Linked DNA regions of Homo sapiens: region 1 is linked to region 2. The links come from fine-mapping of genetic effects on gene expression. Tissue or cell type: whole blood. Region 2 holds a variant in brackets; the other region holds the start of a gene. All regions are shown on one strand. Distances are between the middles of the regions.

Region 1 (8,106 bases), 40 kb after region 2:
AGATCCCAGGCCTCACGGACATGACATTTCTAGATTATCTAAGCATACAATTCACTGCTCCTCAAATTGCATATTTACGTCAGTATTAAAAGCAGTGGCAGAGCCATTACTCAGCTGACTTCCCAAAAGCTGCAAGCCCCATAGGGACATGCGGGGGCCAGAGACATTAGCTGACATCAGGAAACATCTTGGCTCTTCGGGCCCCTGAAGTGGCTGAAGGTCTGCCCACCCCATTCCTCCCTAGTGACAGAGAGTCACTTAGCTGAGCCTTAGGTGACAGAAACAATTCAGCTCTTCTTGTATTTGCCATTCAGCTCATATGCACTTCTATACTGGCATCCTGGGCAACATGCCACAGGAAATGAACACTCACAGTATCCTCTCCTCATCAGCCACCCCACTAGATGCTACTAAAATAGGCTGTTCAGGCTCTGGGGGAGAAACAGCCAATCAGAGCTGCACAGTCAGGTTCTTCCACACCTGGAATGGGTGTCATCTCCTTTTTATTAAGAGATATCCCAGTATCTTCAAAAGGGAATGACAATATGTATTTTTTTGTTTAGAAAGAGGATTACTGTGAAACTACCTGTTTGTATCACAGCGACAAAAGGACTGAGTTCTATTCATTATCTCACCATGAAGGGCAGAAGCCTAGGCCTAAGTTGAACAGTCTGAACTGTGGTAGTGCAGTAAAGTTCTCAGCATACAGCTGTCTCTTGGCAACTGTGGGAGACTGGTTCCAGGACCTCCCTTGATACCAAAATCTGCATATGTTCCCATCTTCTATATAAATTGGCATAGTAACTGCATATAACCTACCTACACCCTCCTGTATACTTTGAATCATCTCTAGATTACTTAAAATACCTAGTACAATGTAAATGCTATGTAAATAGTTGTTATATTGTATTTTTAAATTTTGTTTTTTTTTTTATTGTTGTACTGGTTTTTTTTTTTTTGAGATGGAGTCTTGCTCTGTCACCCAGGCTGGGGTGCAGTGGCGCAATCTCGGCTCACTGCAACCTCCACCTCCCAGGTTCAAGCAATTCTCCTGCCTCAGCCTCCACAGTAGCTGGGACTATAAGCGCTCGCCACCACGCCTTGCTAATTTTTATATTTTTTAGTAGAGACGGGGTCTCAAACTCCTGGCCTCAAATGATCCACCTGCCTCAGCCTCCCAAAGTGCTGGGATTACAGGCATGAATCACCACACTGGGCCTATTTTTTATTTTTAAAAAATATTTTCCATTTGTGATTGGTTGAATCCATGGGTTTGGAACCCATAAATACAGAGAACCGATTGTATACACTCCTATTCTGTGAGGACAGAGGCAGCTTCCTATAAGATGCCTCTTGGAGTGACAGGTGCACACCCAGGTCCTTGAGCAACAACATCATCTGCATTATCTCCAAGATACTCAAGCTTAGGGGATAGATTGGCATGCCAGCAAATACAGAAGCCACAAGGAACACACCACTGGGAGAAGGGACAGAGAAGGTGTTTCCCACAATGTAAGAACCACTTCCACATGGGGGAGTCAAATAAGAAATAAGTGAGTACGCCAAGCCACACATTGTAAGCCAGCAGTCAGCATTCCCCAGAATTAACCAGCCCCACAGACATAGCCACAGGACTTACAGACAAGCATACTGAGCCTGCATATTGCAATGACTCTTGGACACATCTTTACTGAGAACTCACATCATCAATGTGATCCCAGCCCAGCTGTCTTCAGAAATAATAGAACCTAAAACACATCCTATAAACACACCTCTTGGCACTTAAACAGAGTTTTTACTATGTTGATTTCCATTCACTCAATTTTTTTTTCCTTCTATATGTTTCCTATATGTATCCTAATTCCCCATTAGTCTGGGGCTCATTGGGGGCAGAGACATTTCTTCCTCTGCATTGCACAAAAAAAACCACAGAATGAACACACTCAATAAACCATACTAAATGTTTCCCCTCACAGTTAAAATGTATCCGTACCTAATTACTCCATCCTCAGAATTCTCGGATCTAAAAATGCAACCACAGTCTCACATCCGCTGATGTGAAATATTTACATTCTTCCTCAAATTTGTTTTGCTCTAAAATCTTGGAATCACTTTCTTAATTCCTTGCCCAATGGATACTGGATATTCATATGGAAAAAGTATTTCTCCATATTTCAAAGTCTAGTTCTTGGTAGCAGTTTATTACAAGTGCCCAGGCTTCATGATTCATTTCCATGGGTTAGAACCCAGGGGCCTAAGTCACTAGCTCCAAACCTGTTTTGAGATATTTCAATTTTATTTAAAAGGCCCAAGAATCAGGGCTTTGCAAACAGATGTTGTTAGCTGTAATTCCGCTGACTTGACTCTCCCTCCTGCCATTGCTCATTGGTGGCTGCAAGCCCAGCAAGGTCTTTGCAAGCCCTGCAACCTATATACCACCCAGGCTGGGGTTGGCATACCCGCTTATTGCTGTAGCTCCCCCGAGAAAGGGAAGGACCTGTCTAGGGGAGAAAGGTCAGAGTCCGGAGGAGTCTGTGGCAGCACACATTCTTACCGCATCGAACTCCGCTTGATCATCCTCAGGTAGGTCGCTAGTTTCATAAACATCTGGCTCATTCCTGGCCTGCAGGTAGAAGCAGTGACCACCCAACCTCACTACCCAGCATCCAACAACACCCCTTCCCCCACTCCATTTGAATAAGCTAACAGAGAAGGCGGGGTGTGATGTCAGGGTTCTGTCCTTTCTCCTCCACCTGCCCCGTGAGTCAACAGTATGTCAGTTCCCATGTCTCAAGGGGTAGGGATGACAGCGGAAACAATTGGGACCTGACAGTAAACGGTGAGTGTAAGTGATAGCAACGATGTTACCCTAAATCTAGAGGCGGGCAGGTCCTTGGCAATCACTATTGCCAAAGAAGGTGAAGGCTATCCTCCAATTAGGCCCCGTACACCACCACCCTGGCACAAGGATTGAGAGTGACTCAGGACCTTAGTACTCAAGGTCCTGTGTCCCAACCCTCACCTTGAGAAGCAGGCAGGGCAGCACAAAAGGAAGGTACACGCCAGGATTGTCATGGGAGTGGGGGCTGGGGGAGGGCATAGGTTCCCTCAAGGATAGAGCTCCCCATCTGGCACAAGAGGGTTCTGCCAGATGGCAGAACCTCTTCCTTGGCAGGATGAAGGCCATCGTTAAGTGGTCTGGTGTGTGTGTCTGGGGTAGCGATGGGGTCTTATGGAGAGATTTGGGGGGGACATGGGAGGCGTTGACACGGATGGTGGAAAAACTCAGGCACAAGAGGTCAGTACCCGGAGTCGATTTCTGGGCCGAGCTACCGGCGACTGCCGGAAAGGGGGCCTGGTGCGCCGTCCGGCGGCCCGGCCCAGTCGGGTCAGAAGAGTTCGGGGGGTGCTGAGGCCGATCGGAGAACGAGCGGCGGGAGCCCTTGGGCGGAGGATGGGCTGCAGGCGGGAGGGGTCGCGGGCTGGTTTCTGCTGGGGGTCCTTGGGAGGTCGGGGGCGCGGTCCTGGGGAGCCGGGGCCGGTCCTGTACTCACAATGCCGGGAAGGTCGGCGTATTTAGGGTCCGCCATGGCGGCGGCGAGACGGGCTGGGGGACCCGGGCCTCGGTGGAGCCGGGGCCGGTGTTCGGGTAGGGGAGAGGCTGGGTTCGGGTCCCGGGCTAAGGCGGCGGCAAAGGGAGCGGCAGATGAGCAGGAAGTCTCGCGACAGCAGTAGCACAGCAGAAGGGTAAAGCAAAAGTCGCGAGAACAGCCCTGCTGCCACACCCCTGGAGAGGCCGGGATTGGGGAGAACGAGGCCAGGGAATGAGGTAATGGCCAGGGGACGCCGCCTAGGATTGTGGGATGTGTAGTTTTGGTGTACTGGAGCTTGGGCGGGGAGCGACAATAACGAACCTTGGGGAGCTATTTCATACAGCCTTTTCTCTCACTTTTACAGCAAGTCAGTGAAAGAACATTTATAATTCCTGTTTGGGGCTCCCAGGAATAAAATGACTAGATTAAATGATACAGGTAGTCATACTGTGACACAGCCGGGGTTTCAAAAACAAGAAGTTTGCTTGATACTGTGTATTATAAAAACAAAATAAAAACAAGAAGTAAAATTTAGTAAACGCGTAGTGTATGTTAGGAATGAAAAAGTTAGGCAATCTTCTCAAGTAAGGGCTTTCAGATAATTTGAATTTCAGATAATAAGTAGGTGTGTGTGTGTGGTGTGTGGTGTGTGGGTATACTAACCCCCCAAAAATTAAGTATCTGAAATTCACATTTAACTGGGCATCCTGTTTTTGTTTTTTGTTTTTCAAATCTGGCAATTCTATCTGAAGTTCATAAGTAGGTAAGTGGTGTCTCCATGTCTGTCTGAACACTCTCTGGGCTCTTAACTACTTCGTTAATAGTTCTCAGACTTTTATTTATTTTTCAATTTTTTCAATTTTGTGGGTACACAGTAGGTGTATGTATTTATGGGACACATGAGATATTTTGATACAGGCATGCAATGTGAAATAAGCACATCATGGAGAAGAGGGTATCCATCCTCTCAAGCATTTATCCTTTAAGTTACAAATAATCCAATTACTCTTTAAGTTATTTTAAAATGTACAGTTGAGTTATTCTTGACTATAGTCACCCTATTGTGCCATCAAATAGTAGGTCTTATTATACTTTCTAATTTTTTGTACCTATTCACCAACCTTACCTTCCGTTCTCAGACTTTTAAATTTCATCGTTCAATAAAATTAAAACAACTACAAACCTTGAAGATTTGCCTTTTTATTTTATCAAGTAAGTATATTACAAATAGAAAACCTATTATTTACTGTCACCATCATTACTTGGTAGAAAAGCAAGAAGGACACACTCAGAATAAAAGATAGTCCTTTGAAACTTATCAAATCCATCTTTATATTAAAAAAAAACTCACCATTGTTCTTTTGGAGGTGAGGGCATACTCAGTGAACTTTTGTCTCTGACCAGTGACCCTCCATGGACTGGCATTTTGAAACCCCTTTACTAAAGATGCCACCTTGGAGCCCCTGGGGACCCAAGGATGGGATGTTTCCCAGGATGTTTCCTGAGCTTGCAGGATGCTGCAACACTTAGAAATTGTGCCAAACCAAGTGACTAGAGAGTTCCTGAGTTCGGAACTCGTTGTCTTTCTTTCTCCTGGCTCCTCCCCAAGCCTCTATCCCTTTCTCCATAGTCCTACAGCTTTCCTGTCCCATTCCTTATGTTGGACTCTTTTCTTTCAGTTCCCTTAAGATTCAAGGTAGGTTAGAGGTGTAGCCCCAATGTGGGAAACCCCCTGAGTTCTGAATAGTTAGGTCTTGTCTGGCCAGGCTATCAGCCTCTTACTTTTGTCCCATAGTGTCTTAAGTGACCTTAACCACTCACCAGACAGTTGCTGAGCAGAACTTTCCTTTCCTCCTCCTTCTCCCATCCACCCTGCCCTTCCTCTTTGCCTAGAACCTCAACTCCTGCAGTCCAACTCTCTGTTGGCCAGCAGAGGCCTGTGACATGGAGAAAAATCAATTTGGCCAGCTTCTTGGTGGTTCTTTCCAGGGGCTGCAGCAGGAGTCTGACCCAAAGGAAGGAAGGACAAGGAATCTCTGGGCTTGGCATTTCTTTCGTTTTTCTTCCCCCACACCTTTTTTTTTTTGGCCAGGGAAGGGGGCTGAAGTATTGGGACTCTATCCTCCAATGGTTACTGAGACAGAAAACACACACTCCCGTAGGTATCTGAATTTGCCTGAAACCCAAATGCCGGCTTTGCCTCAGACTTCAAAGTCTCTCTGGCCTTACCCATCCCCATCATTGCCCCTCCTTCACTGCTTTCTGACTCCCTTTCTCTTGCAAAGATGTTTCCCACCCATCTTCCTCCCATCCTCAGCCTAGGACACAAAAATAAGTATTGTATCTGCTTTTGAATTCCCATAACCCAGAATGGGAGTTTATCTTCCCTGAAACTGGGGACCTGGTGTGTACGTTGGGGAGACAGTATAGTGCACCTTTGGATGTGGAAGGGGAAGGGAGTAGCCAGAACCTCCCACGACACCCAACTTCATAGGAGTACAGGCAGGGGTCCCCCCAGAAAGCTGAGTGGGTTGGGAGTCCAGCTTCCGTGCATGTGGGGCATGGGATGGGCGTAGGGGGAGAATGAGAAGTGTGATCCCAGTTTGGAGAGAGGACTGTGACGGGTTGGGGGATGCCCTGGAATAAAGGGAGAGGGAGATCTGTTGACCCTTTTCGCTACACAGGCGACAGGCCCACCTCAGTCCCCTTATCCCTTCCAGGGGGTGGAGTCTGAGGGAGGGACAAACAGGTCGGGGGTATAGGGGTGGGATGCAGTGAGTTGGGTGGGGAAGGGTCGAGGGCAAGGTTATCTCCGAACGTTAGGGGTGGGGGAGGGAGGAGAGGAGCGGTGAGGTTCCACCCTTCGGGGGTCGACGTCGAGCCAGCGTCCCCAGTGGAGGGAGCCCCGCCCCCGCTCCTCCATCGCGGCCCCGCCCAGGCCCGCAGCGCGGCGCTGCAGCGCGAGGGGCGGAGAGGCAGAGAGCCCGAAAGGACCAGACGCCCAGGTCGCCCGCATCCCGCTGCCGCAGGAGAGAGACAGCGCGCCCCGGCCCTGCTCCCCAGGCTTCGCCCGGGCGCCCTCAACTCTGTCCCCAGAGACTGAGCACCTGTCCTCCGCCTCGGCCTCTGCTGAGAGCCCTCTCCTCTGGAGCACACACCACCCCTGCAGCCCAAGAAGAGTCCCAGCCCCACGCCGGCTACCACCATGGCGGAGACCAACAACGAATGTAGCATCAAGGTGCTCTGCCGATTCCGGCCCCTGAACCAGGCTGAGATTCTGCGGGGAGACAAGTTCATCCCCATTTTCCAAGGGGACGACAGCGTCGTTATTGGGGTGAGTGTCGCCCAGGAGGGAATTCGGGGAGGGGGCAGGTGGCTGAATCTCCCCGCCCCCCGCAGAGCCTTAGTCTCTGCTGGTCCCTTTGCTCCCCCTCCCCGCCGCTCATCCTTCATCCTCTTCCCCGCAGCCCCTCCTCTCCCCTGCATCAGGATGGCTGGGTGTGGCCTGGCCAGGCCAGCGGCCGAGTCTCTGCAGAGTGGCAGGGGGCTGCTTTCCTACCTTCGGGAGATCCAACTCCCCTTTGCTGCTGTCTGCAGCGTCTCCACCCGTTAGAACCAGTCCCATGTTTTTCTGATGTTTTCCCCTTCTCCACCACCCGCTCCCCAAGAGAAAGCGCATCTTCCCTTTGTTATTGGCTCAGATCTCTACCCCCACCTCCCGGAAGGTAAGGCGGAAGACTTTTGGGTGGATTAGATGGGAGGTGAGCAGTCCAGGGTCTCTGCAGAGTGTGGATGGAAGTGGGCTCTAAGACCAAACCTTCCATCATTCCCTAAAGTAGTTATAGCCTGGATTTTTGTGTGTGTGTTGTGGGGAGTAGGTCTGATGCAGGGTTTACTGGGAAAGAAATCATTGATGCCACACCCAATCTTGGGGGGAGCCTCTGGAATCCTAAGGTCAGGTCTGCCTTTTGGTCCCAGGTACAGTAGGAAGAGGGTTTCAGATTCCCCAACTGACCCCCCTAAAGAAAAATGCCCAAACCCTGAGATCCTAGTCAGTACCTGCTTATTCATCCTTTCTCTTGAGGATCCAATAGAAAGTAGCCATCCAGCTCTACCTCATCATGACAGCCCTACCCAAGGAGGATATCTTAAGGGAACTAATATTAACAGTGGGCCTGTTACTCTACGTATATTATTTAACCCCCAAAACAACATTCAGAAGTAGTATCAATATTTCCATTTTACAGATGCAGAAATTGAGGCCCAAAGAACTTGAATAACTTTCTCAAGGTCATGCTATTCATCCATGGATCTGAACCTAAATCTGTGACTGCAAACCTCCCATCTCTTCTATCACATTGCCTACCCAGGTTTCTGTTCTGCACCTTTATCTGTAATGGCCCAAAGGGAAATTCTAGGCCTTGCCCACTCCCCCTGAGGTTGGTAGGGACCTCAGGCTGTGTGTGGGGAGAAAAGATCTGGGGTCGAGTCCTGTAGGGCTTGAGGGGTGCTG
Region 2 (8,000 bases):
CAAGTACAGTGCAGTGCTCTGTACCTAGCCTATGTTCAGAGAATGTTTTTTTTACTCTGGTGTGATGGGACAGAGATCTGAAACTCTGAGAACAAATGGAGTTATACTGAGAAGATTTGAGTCTCCATGTTTAGAGTAGGCCACATAGTAGAGTTATTGGAGTGTGAGCCTGAAGCTAAACTAGATGGCAGACTGAGGAGCTAATCCTTCTCTGCTCCTCCCCTTGCCTGGACCCCTCCCCTGGCCTGCAGGCCTGATCTGTCCTCTGGAATTTTCCTTCGCAGAAGCCTCAGTGTAAAGTCTGCCGATCATGCCCTGTGGTGCAGTCGAGCCAGCACCTGTTTCTGGACCTGCCTAAGGTAAGTGAGCTTTTCTCTCAACCTAGTTTTCAGGAGGCCTCTTCTGTCCCCTCTGCCTTAGCCACAAATACTGAGAGCAGATTACTCTTAAAAGTTTTAAATTTCCATTAAGAATTGTACATACTATTGTCAAGAGATGAAATAGATTAAAGGGCACAAAGTGAAAGCCCCAGGCCCACTTGCGAGAGGTATTTACTACTTTTTCCTTTGTGTCTATTCAGAAATGTCATATGCATATAAAAGTATTTTTATGTCTCTCTTTTTTTTTAAGGGATAGCTTCTCACTCTGTCACCTAAGCTGGAATGCAGTGGCATGATCATAGCTCACTGCAGCCTTGATATCCTAGGACCAAGCAATCCTCTCACCTCAGCCTCCCAAGTACCATGCCTGACTGATTTTTTTTTTTTTTTTTTTTTTTTTGAGACAGAGTTTCGCTCTTGTCGCCCAGGCTGGTGTGCAATGGCGCACTCTTGGCTCACTGCAACCTTCGCCTCCTGGGTTCAAGTGATTCTCCTGCGTCAGCCTCCAGAATAGCTGGGATTACAGGCGTCTGCCACCATGCCCGGCTAATTTTTGTATTTTTAGTAGAGACAGGGTTTTGCCATGTTGACCAGGCTGGTCTCGAACTCCTGACCTCAGATGATCTGCCTGGCTCAGCCTCCCAAAGTGCTGGGATTACAGGTGTGAGCCACCGCACTGGGCCACCTGACTAATTTTTAAAATGCTTTTGTAGAGATGGGTTCTCACTGTGTTACCCAGGCTGGTGTCAAACTCTTGGGCTCAAGCAGTTCTCCTGCCTCTGCCTGCAAACGTGTTGGGATTAGAGGCATGAGCAACTGTGTCCAGCATTGACCTCCTGATTTGTTTTTTTTTTTTTTGAGATGGAGCTTCTCTCTTGTTGCCCACACTGGAGTGCAATGGCACGGTCTCGGCTCACTGCAACCTCTGCCTCCCAGGTTCAAGCGATTCCTCTGCATCAGCCTCCCAAGTAGCTGGGGTTACAGGTGCCTGCCACCATGCCTGGCTAATTTTTGTATTTTTAGTAGAGATGGGGTTTCACCATGTTGGCCAGGCTGGTCTCGAACTCCTGACCTCAGGTAATCCATCCACCTCGGCCTCCCAGTGTGCAGGGATTACAGGTGTGAGCCACCATCCCAGCCTGACCTCCTTTTTAAAATACAGTGTTCCTCCTTCTGTACCCTGGGCTTGGAGAAAAAAAAAAATAGGCTGGGCGCAGTGGCTTATCATGCCTGTAATCCTAGCACTTTAGGAGGCTGAGGTGGGAGGATCTCTTGATGCCAGGAGTTGGAGACCAGCCTGGAAAACATAGTGAGACACTGTCTTTACAACATAATTGAAAAATTAGCCGGGTATGGTGGTGCGATCCTGTAGTCTCAGCTATGCAAGAGGCTGAGGTGGGAGGATCATTTGAGCCCAGGAGTTTGAGGTTACAGTGAGCTGTGATTGTGCCACTATACTCCAGCCTGGGCAACAGAGTGAGACTCTATCTCTAAAGCATAAAAAAATTAAAGGCCACATGCAGTGACTCACTCCTGTAATTCCATTACTTTGGGAGGCTGAGGTGGGAGGATTGCTTGAGCCTAGGGGTTTGAGACCAGCCTGAGCAACATGGCAAGACCCTGACTCTACAAACAGTGAAACAATTAACCTGGCCTGGGTGCAGTGGCTCACGCGTTAATCCTAACATTTTGCAAGGGCTACCTAGGTGGGCCGATGACTTGAGCCTAGGACTTTGAGACCAGCCTGGGCAACATGGTGAGACCCCATCTCTACAAAAAATACAGAAGTTAACTGGGTGAGTTGTGAGCAGCTGTAGTCCCAGCTACTCAGGAGGCTGAGGTGGGAAGATCACCTGAACCTGGGAAGGTTTGAGGCTGCAGTGAGCCATGATTGAACCATTGCACTGCAGCTTGGGTGACAGACTGAGACTCTGTATCAAAAAGAAAAAAAGAAAAAATTAGCCAAATGTGGTGGTGCACATCTCTGGCCCCAGCTACTTGGGAGGCTAAGGTAGGAGGGTTGCTTTGAGCCCAGGAGCTGGAAGCTATAGTGAGCCATGATTGTACCACTGCATTCCAGTCTGGGCAGCAAAGTGAGACCCTGTCTCAAAAATAAATAAATACATAAAATATAATAGTCCTCAGGTTGGGTTTGTTGGGTGTTTCCTCATGATTTCAGGCTATGCATTCTTGGTTGGAATACTACATAAATGACATTGTGTCCTTTTCAGAGCCACGTGATGGCCATCCCCTTCACTGGGAATCTTAATTTTGTTTGGTCAGGTGTTATTCAATTTGTTCACTGTGTGATTAATATTTTCCCCATTGCAACTTATGAGCAGTCTGGGAATACACTTTATTTTTTTCTTTTCTTGAGATGGAGTCCCGCTCTGTTGCCCAGACTGTAGTGCAGTGTTGTGATTTCAGCTCACTGCAACCTCCACCTCCCAGGTTCAAGTGATTCTCCTGTCTCAGCCTTCGAGTAGCTGGGATTACAGGCACATACCACCATGCCTGGCTAATTTTTGTCTTTTTTTTTTTTTTTTTTTAATTGACCATTCTTGGGTGTTTCTCGCAGAGGGGGATTTGGCAGGGTCATAGGACAATAGTGGAGGGAAGGTCAGCAGATAAACAAGTGAACAAAGGTCTCTGGTTTTCCTAGGCAGAGGACCCTGCGGCCTTCCGCAGTGTTTGTGTCCCTGGGTACTTGAGATTAGGGAGTGGTGATGACTCTTAACGAGCATGCTGCCTTCAAGCATCTGTTTAACAAAGCACATCTTGCACCGCCCTTAATCCATTTAACCCTGAGTGGACACAGCACATGTTTCAGAGAGCACAGGGTTGGGGGTAAGGTTATAGATCAACAGCATCCCAAGGCAGAAGAATTTTTCTTAGTACAGAACAAAATGAAAAGTCTCCCATGTCTACCTCTTTCTACACAGACACGGCAACCATCCGATTTCTCAATCTTTTCCCCACCTTTCCCCCCTTTCTATTCCACAAAACCGCCATTGTCATCATGGCCCGTTCTCAATGAGCTGTTGGGTACACCTCCCAGACGGGGTGGTGGCCAGGCAGAGGGGCTCCTCACTTCCCAGTAGGGGTGGCCGGGCAGAGGCGCCCCTCACCTCCCGGACGGGGCGGCTGGCCGGGCGGGGGGCTGACCCCCCCCCCACCTCCCTCCTGCATGGGGCGGCTGGCCGGGCAGAGGGGCTCCTCACTTCCCAGTAGGGGCGGCCGGGCAGAGGCGCCCCTCACCTCCCGGACGGGGCGGCTGGCCGGGCGGGGGTCTGGCCCCCCACCTCCCTCCCGGACGGGGCGGCTGGCCGGGCGGGGGTCTGGCCCCCCACCTCCCTCCCGGACGGGACGGCTGGCCGGGCGGGGGTCTGGCCCCCCACCTCCCTCCCGGACGGGGCGGCTGGCCGGGCGGGGGCTGACCCCCCACCTCCCTCCCGGACGGGGCGGCTGGCCGGGCGGAGGCTGACCCCCACCTCCCTCCCGGACGGGGTGGCTGCCGGGCGGAGACGCTCCTCACTTCCCAGACGGGGTAGCTGCCGGGCGGAGGGGCTCCTCACTTCTCAGACGGGGCGGCTGCCGGGCGGAGGGGCTCCTCACTTCTCAGATGGGGCGGCTGCCGGGCGGAGGGTCTCCTCACTTCTCAGACGCGGCGGCCGGGCAGAGGCGCTCCTTACATCCCAGAAAGGGCGGCGGGGCAGAGGCGCTCCCCACATCTCAGACGATGGGCAGCCGGGCAGAGACACTCCTCACTTCCTAGATGGGATGGCAGCTGGGAAGAGGCGCTCCTCACTTCCTAGATGGGATGGCGGCCGGGCAGAGACACTCCTCACTTTCCAGACTGGGCAGCCAGGCAGAGGGGCTCCTCACATCCCAGACGATGGGTGGCCAGGCAGAGATGCTCCTCACTTCCCAGACTGGGTGGCGGCACGGCAGAGGCTGCAATCTCGGCACTTTGGGAGGCCAAGGCAGGCAGCTGGGAGGTGGAGGTTGTAGCGAGCCGAGATCACACCACTGCACTCCAGCCTGGGCACCATTGAGCACTGAGTGAACGAGACTCCGTCTGCAATCCCGGCACCTCGGGAGGCCGAGGCTGGCGGATCACTGGCGGTTAGGAGCTGGAGACCAGCCCGGCCAACACAGCGAAACCCCGTCTCTACCAAAAAAATACGAAAACCAGTCAGGCGTGGCGGCACGCGCCCGCAATCGCAGGCACTCGGCAGGCTGAGGCAGGA[G/T]AATCAGGCAGGGAGGTTGCAGTGAGCAGAGATGGCGGCAGTACAGTCCAGCTTCGGCTCGGCATCAGAGGGAGACCGTGGAAAGAGAGGGAGAGGGAGACCGTGGGGAGAGGTAGAGGTAGAGGTAGAGGTAGAGGGTAGAGGGTAGAGGGAGAGCATTTTTGTATTTCTAATAGAGATGGGGTTTCACTATGTTGGCCAGGCTGGTCTCAAACTTCTGACCTCAAATGATTCACCCGCCTTAGCCTCCCAAAGTGCTGGGATTACAGGTGTAAGCCACTGCGCCCAGCCTTGAGGGAATACACTTTAAAGACCATGCAATACTTTGCTCTTCGTGAACAAAATATTCCCTATAAATGTAGCATTCATTGATCATTCTTACCTGAATCAATCTTTATTATGGTGATTTTCCAACTCTACCACTACTCTCTATATTTATCCTTCTCCCTCCATTTATTTTTTAATTTAGTTAACTATTTATTATCAGTATAGACTCATGGATTCCTATTTTTTTCAATTTCTTATAATCCTTTCCTGTCCTAAATTTATTTTCATGTTCAAATTGTTACTTATTTCATCAGTAGGAACGTATTCAAGGTGGCTTGTCTGCTTTTGAGATCTCCCATCATGTTTTAAACACTTCCTTAATTTGTGGCATAAAAAAATACTCTAGGTTCATCTGGTTCAGCCTTGAAATCAACCATGTCACCAACCTTGAGTTTAATTTAGTAGGGAACAGTATTAGATACCAAAATCTAGGTGGTAGATGTGCTCATTGCTACTGGGTGTCTTTGCTACTAGGACCTTTTATCAAAGAGAGTTGGTATTTGTTTTTTGTTGTTTGTTTGTTTGTTTTGAGACAGGGTCTTGCTGTCACCTAGGCTGGAGTGCAGTGGCACTATCTTGGCTCACTGCAACTGCCATCTCCAGGATTCAAGCGATTCTCCTGCCTCAGCCTCCTGAGTAGCTGGGATTACAGGCACCTGCCACCACACCCAGCTAATTTTTTTTGTATTTTTAGTAGAGACAGGGTTTCACCATGTTGGCCAGGCTGGTCTCCAACTCCTGATCTCAGGTGATCTGCCTGCCTTGGCCTCCCGAAGTGCTGGGATTACAGGCGTGAGCCATCGTGCCTGGCCAGTTGGTATTTATTTTAAGTTCACACTGACACCTGCAATTTCAGTCCATCCCCACAGAGTTCTTCGTCACTTTCTCTTATTTATTTCATGTCTCTATCTACCTTCTTCCACTGTAGGTGTCCTGGTTCTCAATAGGCATCAGCACATTTACTTATTAGCTCAATCCTACAATATACCTAAAACAATTTCAGAATTGCTTTGCTGGTACGTCTACAAAAAAAATAACCTATTAAAAAGAGTTTAGGATTTGTTGGCAATCCTGATTCCTCCCCTAGACTAAGGGTATATAGCCAAGTGTGTTCAAACAAAATTTTTTTCTAGAGACAGGGTCTCACTCTGTCACCCAGGCTGGAGTGCAGTGGCACAATCACAGCTCACCGCACTCTCAAACTCTCGGGCTCAAGTTATCCTTTTGCTTCAGCCTTCTGCGTAGTTGGGACTACAGGCGTGTACTATCATGCCTGGCTGATTAAAAAAAAATTGACTAGGCATGGTGACTCACGCCTGTAATCCCAGCAGTTTGGGAGGCCAAGGCAGGCGGATCATGAGGTCAATAGACCGAGACCATCCTGGCCAACGTGGTGAAACCCCATCTCTACTAAAAATACAAAAATTAGCCAGGCGTGGTGGCACCGACCTGTAGTCCCAGCTACTCAGGAGGCTGAGGCAGGAGAATCGCTTGAACCTGGAGGTGGGGAGGTTGCAGTGAGCTGAGATCGTGCCACTGCACTCCAGCCCGGGCAGCTGAGCAAGACTCCAGCTCAAAAAAATTTTTTTTTGGTTGGGCATGCTGGTTTACACCTGTAATCCCAATGCTTTGGGAGGCCAAGGCTGGAGGATTGCTTGAGCCTTGGAGTTTAAGACCAGCCTGGGCAACAGAGTGACACCCTACCTTAAAAAAAAAAAAGAAAATTTTTTTTTTCTTTTTTGCACTTCCTCAGCTGGCCATGGTGGTTCATGCCTGTAATTCCAGCACTTTGGGAGGCTGAGGCAGGAGGATCGCTGGAAGCCAGGAGTTTGAGAGTAGCCTGGGCAACAAAGCAAGACCCTGTCTGTATTTAAAAAAAGAAAAAATTGGTTGGGCACGGTGGCTTATGCCTGTAATTCCAACTTCCAACACTTTGGGAGGCTGAGGCGGGAGAATTGCTTGACCCCAGGAGTTTGAGACCAGGGTGGGCAACTTGGTGAAACCCATCTCTACTAAAAATACAAAAATTAACCAGGTGTGGTGGCACGTGCCTGTAGTGCCAGCTACTCAGGAGGCTGAGGTGGAAGGATCACTTAAGCCTGGGAGGTTGAGGCTGCAGTGAGCCATGATGTGCCACTGTACTCCAGCCTGGGTGACAGTGAGACCCTGATATGGACAAGATTAGCACATCCTCTGCACAAGAATGACATGCAAACTTGTGAAGTGTTCCATATTTTTAAAAATTAAAAAAAAAAAAATTTTTTTTAGGGACAGGATTTTGCTGTGTTGCCCAGGATGGTCATGAACTCCTGCCCTCAAGTGATCCTCCTGCGTCAGCCTTCGGAGTAGCTGGGATTACAGGCGCAAGCCACTGCCCCTGGCTGTGTGTTAAAAATCTAGTTAAGGCTGGGCAGGGTGGCTCACAACTGTAGTCTCAGCGCTTTTGGAGGCTGAGGTGGGCAGATTGCTTGAGCTCAGGAGTTCAAGACCAGCCTGGGCAATGTGGCAAAACCCTGTTTCTACAAAAATTACAGTCTGGCATGGTGGTGTGCACCTGTGGTCCCAGCTACTGGGGAGGTTGAGGTAGGAGGATTGCTTGAGCCCAGGAGGTTTAGGCTGCAGTGAGCTGTGATTATGATTGCACCACTGCACTCTAGTCTGGGCAACAGAGCAAGACTCTGTCTCCAAAAAAAAAGTTATATATTGCCAAATTGTGCTCCAAAAAGGTTATATGTGTTTATCCTTATGCTAACCATATATGAGACTTTCCTAAATCAGCCCTCTTTCTCCGTTATCTCAGCTGGAGAAGCGACTGGAGGAGTGGTTGGGGAGGACATTGCCTGGCAGTGACTGGACACCCAATGCCCAGTTTATCACCCGTTCTTGGCTTCGGGATGGCCTCAAGCCACGCTGCATAACCCGAGACCTCAAATGGGGAACCCCTGTACCCTTAGAAGGTTTTGAAGACAAGGTAAAAACCCTTTTTTATTCATATCATTCAGCCTTAGTGTTGAAACCCTGGGCTAGCAGAGTAGACTGCTGA

The links. PIP is the estimated chance that this variant, and not a neighbour inherited with it, causes the effect.
Region 1: DCTN2 starts here. The variant in region 2 is fine-mapped to the expression of DCTN2 in whole blood (TOPMed, PIP above 0.99).

Annotation. Positions count from the first base shown.
Region 1 is chr12:57,543,474-57,551,579 of GRCh38, forward strand. It overlaps DCTN2 (dynactin subunit 2), which reads right to left and starts at 3,719. Exons shown (of 14, transcript NM_001261413.2): 1 at 3,555-3,719; 2 at 2,555-2,623. The coding sequence starts at 3,590. KIF5A (kinesin family member 5A) reads left to right here and starts at 6,571. Exons shown (of 29, transcript NM_004984.4): 1 at 6,571-6,927. The coding sequence starts at 6,799. RefSeq lists enhancers at 3,848-3,987, 6,906-7,498 and a silencer at 6,298-6,637.
Region 2 is chr12:57,503,941-57,511,940 of GRCh38, forward strand. It overlaps MARS1 (methionyl-tRNA synthetase 1), which reads left to right. Exons shown (of 21, transcript NM_004990.4): 11 at 285-359; 12 at 7,758-7,928. It also overlaps the pseudogene LOC124903093. Among named protein-coding and RNA genes, the nearest start is that of MIR6758, 4.7 kb to the right of the region's middle. The variant G/T (reference allele first, on the strand shown) is at 4,631.